Homo sapiens: one gene and its partners. The protein of the gene in region 1 purifies or fractionates together with the protein of each later gene. This does not show direct contact. Each region holds a gene or a part of one and is shown in the gene's direction. Other genes may lie near its edges.

Region 1 (3,652 bases):
TTTTTTTGAAATTTTTTAGAAACAGTCTCACTCTATCACCCAGGCTGGAGTGCAGTGGCTTGATCATAGCTCACTGCTACCTGGAATTCCTGAGCTCAAGTGATCCTCCCACCTCGGCCTCCCCAGTAGCTGTGACTACAGGCACGTGCCACATGCCCAGCTTATTTTTTCATTTTTTGTAGAGACGGGGTCTCTCTATGTTGCCGGATCTGGTCTTGAACTCCTGGCCCCAAGTGATCCTCCCACTTTGGCCTCCCAAAGTGTTGGGATTACAGGTGTGAGCCACTGTGCCTGGTCTGCTCTCCACTTCTTGCTGTCCTATTGGGCCTTCACAGGCTCAGCTTGGGGGCCGCCTCGCTTGCTTAACACAGTGCATTCCTTCTGGAGGATGGTGGGTTGGTTCTGGGCCCCCCCCTCACCACTTGACCCCACTGCCTGTCAAATTTGTGGGTCCACCTATTGGCCCTGACCTTTCCCTCCCCTTCCGAACCCCTCTTTGCCCACCATTTTGGGTCCTAGGTTAGGTCTTGCTCTTGCAAACATCATTAGGGACTAAGTGTGGCCAGGGGTCCCTGTGACTCAGGGCCGGAGTGAGCTGGCAGGACTTTGGCACCCAGCCTTCCCCGTGAAGGTCACTCTTCCCGCTGGGGACCTGGGGTATGGGACGGGGTGGGGCCTATGGACAGACGCAGCAGGAGCACTCCTGCGAGCTTGGGGCCACAGTCCCTGGTGGGGCAACACTGGGAAGGAGCAGGCTGGCTTCTGGTGGTTTCACCGCCCTGTCTGGGCAGCAACTCTTGAAGAAAACTATATATATATACATACACACAGCCCTTGGAGTTTTCAAGGCAGAAGCTCTGGCCAGGCGCAGTTGCTCACACCTGTAATCTCAGCACTCAGGGAGGCCGAGCCTTGTGGATCACTTGACCCCAGGAGTTCAAGACCAGCCTGGGCAACATGGTGAAAACCCATCTCTAGGGGCCGGGCGCAGTGGCTCACGCCTGTAATCCCAGAACGTTGGAAGGCCGAGGCGGGTGGATCACAAGGTCAGGAGATCGAGACCATCCTGGCTAACACGGTGAAACCCCGTCTTTACTAAAAATATGAAACAATTAGCCGGGTATGGTGGTGGGCTCCTGTAGTCCCAGCTACTCGGGAGGCTGAGGAAGGAGAATGGCGTGAACCCGGGAGGCGGAGCTTGCAATGAGCCGAGATTGGGCCACTGCACTCCAGCCTGGGCAATAGAGTGAGACTCCGTCTCAAAAAAAAAAAAAAAAAAAAACAAAAGCCCCATCTCTACAAACAAGTTTTTAAAAATTAGCTGGGCATGGTGGTATGTACCTGCGGTCCCAGCTATTCAGGAGGCTGAGGTGGGTGGATCACTTGAGCCTGGGTGGTTGAGGCTGCCGTAAGCCGTGATGGCACCCCTGCACTCCAGCCTGGGTGACAGAGCAGGACACTGTCTCAAAAGAAGAAAAAGAAGGCCGGGCGCAGTGGCTCACGCCTGTAATCCCAGCACTTTGGGAGGCCGAGGCGGGCGGATCATGAGGTCAGGAGATCGAGACCATCCTGGCTAACACGGTGAAACCCCGTCTCTACTAAAAATACCGAAAATTAGCCGAGCATGGTGGTGGGAGCCTGTAGTTCCAGCTACTCGGGAAGCCGAGGCAGGAGAATGGCGTGAACCCAGGAGGCAGAGGTTGCAGTGAGCCGAGATCGCGCCGCTGCACTCCAGCCTGGGCGACAGAGGGAGACTCCGTCTCAAAAAAGAAAAAGAAAAAGAAAAAGGGTAGAAGCTCTGTGTCCCAAGTGGGCAAGCAGGTGCCTCATGAATTCATTTCCTCATTTAAAGTAGGTAGATTTATTCTCATTTTTTTCCAATGGGGAAATTAAGGCACAGGGTCTTAAGCGGCTTGCCCAGGACCACACAGCCAGCTGGATTCACACTCCGGGCTGTGCTATGTCTGAGCTATGTTGGATGAACCTGGGGGTCCAGTGGCTTCCTGTAGGCGTGTTCTGACTGGGGGCTTCCACACTGTAGACCCACAGCCAGTGGTCAGCCTGCTAATCATCTTGGAGAGGAACTCCTGAGCTGGTCCTTGCTCTGAGGAGAAGGCAGCCCCAGAGGCAGGCGGTGAAGACAGAGCTGAGAAAATTGACCCATCTCTGGCTGCCAGAGCCCAGGTGTAGCAGAGCTGTTGGGGATCAGTTGCCAGTGAGGGGACCCCAGACCAGACCTTATAGGAGGAATGTAGACTGCCTAACTGTGGGAGGTTCTTGGACCCCAGGGAGCTGGGATAGAGGCAGTGAATGGGCAGGAGTGGAATTGAGGGGCTATCAGGGTGCAAGTGGGATAGGGGCGCATTACCGTCTCTGCCCCTCCCTTGTTTGCGTGTGCCCACTGGGGTAGTCCCATCTGTGCGTGTGCCCACTGGGGTAGTCCCATCTGTTCCTTGTTAGGCACTCAACAGACAGGCCTCCAGGACATTAATTAATGCCAAGCTGCTGGCACAACCAGCAGCATGCCTGTCCCAGGGCCCCGTTCTGGCAGCACAGATACCCAGCTGACCCCAGAAATGCTGCTCCGTTCCCACCCGCTGATCCTGAAGACACAGGGGCCACATTGCTGGCATAACCCTGCCCCCGAGGATGGATGGCAGGGAAGGCTTAGGTGGTGGCAGGCAGCCAGAGACGGCAGCAGGATGTTCCCCCCACAGACTGGTCTCCATCACCACCCTGGACCTTCTCCTTCATCCCTGGCTCTGCCCCAGGCCTGCTGTGTGACCTTAGTCATGTAGCTTACCCTCTCTGGGCAACTTTTCTTTCTCCATCTATAAAATGAAGGGGTTAGACTGGGTCAACACTGAGCCTCCCCCTGAGTCTGAGTCTTTGTTGTCTGTAGATCTGCCTGATTTGGGGTGGCTCTGCTGGTACTCCCACTTCCTGCTCCATATCTACCTCCCCTTGGTATCCCACATTGTCTCCTGCATGTCTTGTTGCCCCAGGGCCCTGACTGGTACTCCTATAATTAACTCCTGCCCATGCTCAGGACATGGAGGGCCTGCTTGGCTTGGCCAGACCCAGTGGCCTGTTGGGGCCCGGGCCCCACCCTCACGGACTGGCCAGCGTTCCCAACCCCAGGGCCAGGGCAAGGCGTCTGCTCCCACAGTGGCTACCTCCAGCCGGCCCAGCACATTCCTCAGGCTTATCTGGAGGCCCGCCCCACTGGACTCTGCCCTCCCACCCAGGAAGCAGCACCCAGAGCTGCGTGCGGAAGAGTTGCAGGGCCTGGGAACAGGCCCTGCGTGAGCTCGAGGTAGTGATTCTTAGCCTGGGGCTGGAGAGAAACAGGTAGAGGACCGGGTGGGGCAGGAGGGTAGAGGGGTTTGTGGGGGCTGCTGAGCTGACCAGGCAAATTGTCTTTAACATTGCAGAGCATGGGGTTCACTCAGACACGCAGGGGTCATCTCCTGCGACCCTCCTCCTCCATCTCTGGGAAGCGCTTCCCTGCTACCCCTGGGAGCTCTTGTACCCAGGAAGGGGCTTTTGCTCTTGGCAAGTTGACCTAAATTTGCACCAGAGTTATCACAGTTGATGGGGCCACGATCCCAAAGTGCTGAGGGACAGCAGCTCCCTGCCACTTCCCTTCCTG
Region 2 (3,652 bases), on another chromosome or scaffold:
TCATTTCATGAGAATACAATTATGTAGAAAGTTTATGGTTTTTTTGGTTTTGTTTTTTTAAGTGATAGGGTGTTAATTATTTGGTTAGAAATATCTTGGCTTAATTCATTAGATATCTTTGAGCATATCCAAATATTTGATGGTAGATGTAAAAATAATATGTAGATTTAGACAGGATAAGCAGTCATTTTATAGTATTGGTGTCTTATTTATTCTAGATAGTGAAGTAGAAGAAGAATCTGAAGAAGATGAAGATTATATTCCATCAGAAGACTGGAAAAAGGTAGTTAGAACAATATTTTCCCAAAATTTAGATAAATTAATATTTTTTTAAAAAGCCTCGTGTAATTATTTTTTTTTTTACTAACTATGTATATTGATAAAATCGATGTAAGCCCTTTTATGACATTTAAATGTTTGGTAAATGTTCAGATTCCTTCTTAACACATCTAGGTTAGATTAGAAATCTACATTTCTGGCGGGGTGTGGTGGCTCACGCCTGTTATCCCAGCACTTGGGAGGCTGAGGCAGGCGGATCGCTTGAGCCCAGGAGTTCGAGACCAGCCTGGGCAGCGTTGCGGGACCCTGTCTCATTTTATAAAACAAAACAAAAAATAAATAAAACAGAAATCCACATTTCTGATTTAGTCCTGAACTAGTGCCAAATTAGGCATTTGTTGCCCTGTAAAAAGTATCACGTATATGTTTTTCAATATTATGGAAAGCATTTGTGGAGGCTTTGATATTTGTTAAGTAAATTTTGTTTAGTAGTTCATATTGCAAGTTTTTCATTCTGTATTACTTTATAAAAGAAAAACTCTCCAAATGATTGAATTTAATGTTGACATTTACAACTGATAAGCTTATTATATGAAGAAACAGATTTGGCTTCTTCGTAACTATATACAATTAATTTCTGAAATGAATCTAAAGATAATATATTGAGATTAGTTTTTAATTATAAAATTATATAGCATATAATTAATCATACAGTTAAGTTAAAGAATTGTAAGTTATTGTAAAAGAACTGAGCTCTTAGGAAAAATCTATCTAAACATTATGTAGAATTAGCTGGTTGCAGTGATGTTTCCCCTGTTGTCCCAGCTACTTGGGAGGCTGAGGTAGGGAGAATCACTTCAGCCCAGGAGTTTGAGACCAGGCTGGGCAACATAGTGAGACCCCATGTCTTCAAAAAAATTTTTTATGTAGAACTGGTTAAAACAAAGAAATAATGTTATTTTTGTTGAGAGACAAGGTTAGCCCAGTTTACGGTATGTGTTAATTTGAGCAAATGATGGGACTCGACAGAAAACAAGAATCACAAAAGTTAATTTGTGTGGCCTATTTGGGCAAGGGTTCTTTCATCCTGTTTTTAATCTGATTCCTACAGTGTGCAGAAATTAAGATGAAAAAAGCTAGAAACCTTGGGAGTCCTTATAAATTGCTGTCCCACTTCATATTCAAGTTTATGTATCTTCAACATGTGTTGTTTTTTAATCTGGAGTGTTCAGTAGAGTATTTGATTAAGCATTCAGTGTTTTTTTTTTAAATGAAAGAACAAAAGCTCAGAGGTAGAACACCTCTCATTGCTGGAGGGTATTAATTACCCACACCTTACTCAGAAAGGGTATTAATTAACCACACCTTTCTCAGAAAAAAATTATGTAATAAAGCAGGCCAGAGTAAATGCAGATTGTTTTCTTTCAGTATGATTTTGTTGTTTTAAATAATTGTCAAGGTTCAGAGATTCATTTTTTTTTAAGACTTATAAGATGAAATTGAGTTTTTATAGAAACTTAAGGTAGGGGAAACAGTTTTGAAGTCAAACCTGAATTTTAGTTGTAGCTCTAGAACTTAGTAATTGTGTGCTCCTGAGAAAATCAAATTTTTGAGCTTCATCTTCTTACATATAGTATGGGAATAACAATGTCAGCCTTATGGGGCTTGCTGAAAGATTAAAGGAAAATTGCATATATGATATGTTAACACATAATGATCTTCAAAGCTATTTCCCTTCCCTTCCCTGTACTACCGAACAAATTAACAGATGAAAAGAAATGTTCAGAACTGAACAGGAAAAAGGAAGTACCTATCTTTAAACTAATCCAGATGTTCTCAACCCTGTTTTTATGTTAGAATCATTTGGATAACTTAGATGTACTGACTACCAGGGCCTTCATTCATAGATTCTAATTTAATTGTCCTGCAGTGGATCCAGGCATTGATGGTTTAGAAGCACCCCAGCCAGGGTTAGTAACTTGACAATGTTCTTTGGTAGGCCTAGGTGAGTTAAGTTAAAAGAGGCACAAGATGTGACAATAAAGGACTCTTTTTATAGTAGAAGACATAAAGAGAATTCCATTGTAAGGGTAGAGAAAATTTGTTGTAAGTTTGATTCTTTTTAGAAAACTGATCATGAGAAAGATTGGTTTTTCTTATGGGTATAGAAATAACTTTATTACATAAAGCACGTCTTTGAAGTTGTACTGGATAAAATGAGCTCCTCACATCAGTGAGGTAACAATAGCAGGAGAGAGACTTTCCAAATCCTAAGAGTTACCAAAACTTCTAGACCATGATTTTGTACCTTTCATGCCCAATTTTGAAAATGTCAGTAAATGTGTTCTTAACATTTAGCCATCACACAAAAGAGGGTTCATGTAATCTTGGTCTCCTTGCATTGTGAAATTTCACCAGTGGTAGTTTGCAGTTGCTTTTGAGAACATCCAGTTTCACCTAATCTGTGATTTGACTGTATAGATATGATTACTGGATTTCCTATTTAATTATATTTGTGGGAGGAGGTTACTTTTTCATTTTGTATTGTTTTAATGAAAGTCAAGCCATAACCTGCTTATCTATTTCATTTAGAGTTTCTTTCATTTGGCCCCTACTGAGCTTTATACAAACCCTTTTTGTTATTTTTCCTACTTTGAAGCTCTGTTTTTCAGACTTCAGTCTATGTCAGAATCACCTAGAGAGCTTGTTAAAATACCAATGACTGAGTCCTGTCCCCAGAGTTTCAGTAGGTTTGGGGTGGGACCTGAGCATTTGCATTTCTAACAGTTTCCCATTAGCTGTGTGTGGTGGCATGTGCCTGTAGTCCCAGCTACTCAGAGACTGAGGTGAGAGAATTGCTTGAGCCTGGGAGGTCGAGGCTGCAGTGAGCCATGATCACTCCAGCCTAGGTGACAGAGCAAGACCCTGTCTCAAAAAAACAAAAATTTCATAGATGACACTGATGCTGCTCATATAGGGATCATATTTAAGACCACTGTCTTAAGTGTAGATACTCTGAAAATATCTGAATTTGACTTTGTGTTTTACATGTTTTGCAGTTGTCTTACTAATGGAATTATCAGAATTCACTTCTTTGTCTCTATATTTTGAAATAAAGTTTGTATTTATTGTTTACGTTGCATTTCACCTCAGTATTATTACTAATATTTTCATCCAGTCATTATTTGTCATTCATCTTCACAAAGGTACCTCTGAGGTAGTTAATTGGTTGTTTTTGTATTTTATGACAGAGAAACCAGGAACAGTTTACTAAGATGGTAAGGCTAGAAAATGGATATAAAATCTGTTACTAGATCTTACTAATGTTTTATGTTATTTTTAAAATAGGAGATTATGGTGGGCTCCATGTTTC
Region 3 (3,652 bases), on another chromosome or scaffold:
ATTGAACATATACTAAACGAAATTGGTTCTTAACCTTAGCCCCTCCTCCCAAATCCTGCAGAAACAATTGGGAAGAGACAGTGATTGACGTGTTGGGAGAAGTCAGAGAGTAGCCTCGGCCTTCCCCCATTTCTGGTGGGAAAGTTGCTGGCTTAGTAGGAACCATGTGATTACATGGCTTTTAGGGAAAGACAATGTATCCTTAAAAAAAAAAACATTTCATGGATTTTCCTTATAAGTTTTCAACTTTTTGTCTTCCTTTTGTATAGCAAATCCAGTTTGCTGATGACATGCAGGAGTTCACCAAATTCCCCACCAAAACTGGCCGAAGATCTTTGTCTCGCTCGATCTCACAGTCCTCCACTGACAGCTACAGTTCAGGTAGGTGTGAATGAACTCCATGTCCTCTCTAATCTCTCTTCCCTGTTTGCTACCAGTGCTCTTCACTTAGCAATCTGAAAATACCTCATGTTATGACTGCCCACCTTTGTGCTGAAAACTGTTAGTGGCTGGGCAGTGGGAATGTTCTGCAGCCAAGCTAGTAGCTGGGGAAGCTTTTGTCGACTCGAGACTTTCTTCCCCCTGGCTGTCTGTGTGTGTGGTCTGTGGCCAGTGCCCAGTTGGTAGGACTGGGCTAGTTCCCATTCCCACATTGATCCGCCCATTTCAAAAGGAAGAAATCAATGCTATTTTGGCTGACAGAATTGGACTTAAAAAAGAAGTGCATTTTGAAGCACGATTTCTTTGTGTAAAATATACCCTGTCACCTATCTCTTTCTTTCTTGTCTCCAAGACTGCTTAGATTGTAACAATAAAATTAGTATTTTGGCTTCTCTTATTTATTAGGTTATTCTTTCTGTTGGAATATCCTCCCCTGTTAGACTCTGGAGCAGGAAAGATTCAGACTACTGTAATGTAACTCCAGCTCTGTTTCTTTTTAGTTCTCTCCTCCTGTCTTAACTCTCTGTAAATAAAGTCTTTTTCTGTTTTGTATTGTGTCTTTCCCAACTATAGAGCATGTATTAGAAAATTAGCATGGAAAAGAATATAGAATCTTGGCAGATGAATACAGGAGAAAACATTAGGGACATCTAATGGGGCATCCAATACAACCTTGTCATTGTTTAACTGAAGACTCATTGTTAAAAGATTAAGAGGTTACAGATTGCTATTAATGTCAGCAGAGATATTTGTACCAAAAGCCATTCATTGTCCTTTGCCAGAATACCTTTTGCATTGTATTATCAACATTAAGGATTAACATAAATGAAAAGCTGTTATATATGATCCTGGAGTGACAGATAAAAAGTGGTGTGTGACAAGCAGGCTAACTGTAGCCAAGAAAGAAGAAAAATTAATTGTGAAAAATTGAGTTATGAGAGGAAGAACGATAAAACGACTGAAGAAGGCTTTTAAAAAGTCTTCAAAGATCTTGACGGCCATGTTACAGAAATGTATTAGAGCCTTTTAAAAAGCTTAGTGATATGGTTAAAATGTCATAGTGGGGAAGATAATCTTTAGTAGTATTTGTGTTAGCTGGACAGGAGGAGGACCTGTACATAGAAGTCAGTCAGTGAGAGAGTCCAGGTATACTAGCAGAAACCGTGATGAGGAAAGTACTCAATTCAGAGAGGAAAGAAGTGATTTGAGAGGTAAGGAATGATTGTTGTATATCCTCTTGCATATCTGTCAGATAAGTGGTATTTTTAGCTTTTATGTGAAACCACTTTTTAAAGTTGATCATTTTGACAGACTTTCCCAGGGCTATCAGTAGAACCAGAGCTGTTTGCCTTTTGTGCCATTTCTTTCTTTCTCTATTCCTTGAGCACAACTTAGTGTAAAATCCCTTGTAAGACTATCTTATCACTTTTGTCTATATCCATGGTTCTCAAAGTGTGATCCTCTGACTAGCAGCATCAGCAACACCTGGTAACTTGTTGGAACTACTAATGCTTAGGTGCCACTCCATACCTGCCAGATGGGAAACTGGCCACAGGGTCTAGCAATATATGTTTTAACAAACCTTCCATGTGATCCTGATAGATGCTTGAATTTGAGAACCAGTGATCTATAGAAATAGCATTCCTTATCTGCCCTAAATTATTCTTCTGTTTTTGCCAGGTCTGGTTCCAATCCAGATGGGACCAAGTACCTCTATTATCTGGGATTACTATAGCTGCAGGTTTATAATCAGTGGTCCCTTGTCATAGGCACTAATAGCACAGTATTGTTAGGGTGGGTGAAAGAGCTGCAACATGGAAGTACCCACAACAGTTTCATTCATACCACCTATTAGAACCTAGAGGAGCAGAACTGAGAGCGTTGTAAAAGGTAGCTCCAATTAAGGGTGTTCCCTTAACTTAAATGAAAGTCCCTTGGGGACTGCACTCTGTAGAGTTGGGGACCACTGAGGTTTTTCTATCCTTGTTTTTTTCTTTCCTGGCTCTAGCTGCATCCTACACAGATAGCTCTGATGATGAGGTTTCTCCCCGAGAGAAGCAGCAAACCAACTCCAAGGGCAGCAGCAATTTCTGTGTGAAGAACATCAAGCAGGCAGAATTTGGACGCCGGGAGATTGAGATTGCAGAGCAAGGTAAAGAAAGGGAGTGGGTTAGGGGACCAGAAACAACCCTCTTGTTGGCCATCAGAATCCACAAACAACTTAAGACTTGAAAGCTGACTTGAAAGTGTACTGGGAAGAAAGACAGTATTATGGACTTTCGGATAAACACTTCTCTCTCTATGGAACTTAAGTCTTGGGATTTTGTTCTCTCTTCCTTCTGTTCTCAGCATGTGGTGATTACACACAGAGTAGTTTCTGTTTTCCTCCTTGCCCCACCCCACCACTGTATTCAAAGATCTACATGGCAGAATTGACAAGTCCTAGATCACTACGTGGTAGTTGGTTATATGGGATCTTACTATAGCTGCCAATGGCAGAGACCCAGATTGCCCAGAAGCAGCTGATGAGGAAGGGTTTTAAGGTAAGGATGTGGTGACCTAGAGTCTTGTTTGGTCCTGAGCACCCTCTGCTGGAGCAGAGTAAAAGTGACTGACAGTTAAATCTTGGTTTCTCTACCCCAGCCACTCCCAGTAAGGTCCTCTTTACTCTTGTGTTGTTTACACATTGAAGGCATGTTCTATACTGAGAGAGAATAGAGAAACCAAACAGACTGACAGGACATGGTAAGACAGCATAGAAAAACAGAAGTTAGTGGTTTCGGCTGAGGGTACAGTCTTTCTGGTCTGATGATTATATATAGGAATCTATTAGCCAATGCCTTAACTATTTTCCTCTCTTCCCAAATGAATGATGAGACTCACCCTTCATTTTGATCAGTTTTAAGGATTTACTTCATTCTCTGTTCAGTCCTCTGTGTATAAAGCTGAAGCAGTAGAGGAAGAGAGAAACTCCAAGTGGTTGCATGACTGCTCTCCACTATTACTGTGCCGTTGAAGCTGCCAGTCGTCATGGAAATAGGCTTAAAGTTTTTCTGCCTCATCTCACCATATCTCAACAGATCCAGACCAGCCCTGGGGCAGGAACTGATGATACTGCTAGTGCAGACCTAGCTCAAATCCTCTGTTCTTTCACAGACATGTCTGCTCTGATTTCACTCAGGAAACGTGCTCAGGGGGAGAAGCCCTTGGC

Evidence for each region.
Region 2: the proteins of DOK4 (region 1) and MIER1 purify together in Homo sapiens (affinity purification with mass spectrometry; 2 studies listed by BioGRID and IntAct, with this or other methods). This does not show direct contact.
Region 3: the proteins of DOK4 (region 1) and AHCYL1 purify together in Homo sapiens (affinity purification with mass spectrometry; 3 studies listed by BioGRID and IntAct, with this or other methods). This does not show direct contact.

What each region holds. Positions count from the first base shown.
Region 1 is NC_000016.10:57,479,994-57,483,645, reverse strand, and holds part of DOK4 (docking protein 4), read left to right. Parts: intron 1-3,256; exon of another isoform or gene 3,257-3,351; intron 3,352-3,652. UniProt on the Homo sapiens protein: DOK proteins are enzymatically inert adaptor or scaffolding proteins. They provide a docking platform for the assembly of multimolecular signaling complexes.
Region 2 is NC_000001.11:66,959,461-66,963,112, forward strand, and holds part of MIER1 (mesoderm induction early response protein 1), read left to right. Parts: intron 1-218; coding exon 219-283; intron 284-3,627; coding exon 3,628-3,652. UniProt on the Homo sapiens protein: Transcriptional repressor regulating the expression of a number of genes including SP1 target genes. Probably functions through recruitment of HDAC1 a histone deacetylase involved in chromatin silencing.
Region 3 is NC_000001.11:110,008,765-110,012,416, forward strand, and holds part of AHCYL1 (S-adenosylhomocysteine hydrolase-like protein 1), read left to right. Parts: intron 1-269; coding exon 270-381; intron 382-2,449; coding exon 2,450-2,593; intron 2,594-3,597; coding exon 3,598-3,652. UniProt on the Homo sapiens protein: Multifaceted cellular regulator which coordinates several essential cellular functions including regulation of epithelial HCO3(-) and fluid secretion, mRNA processing and DNA replication.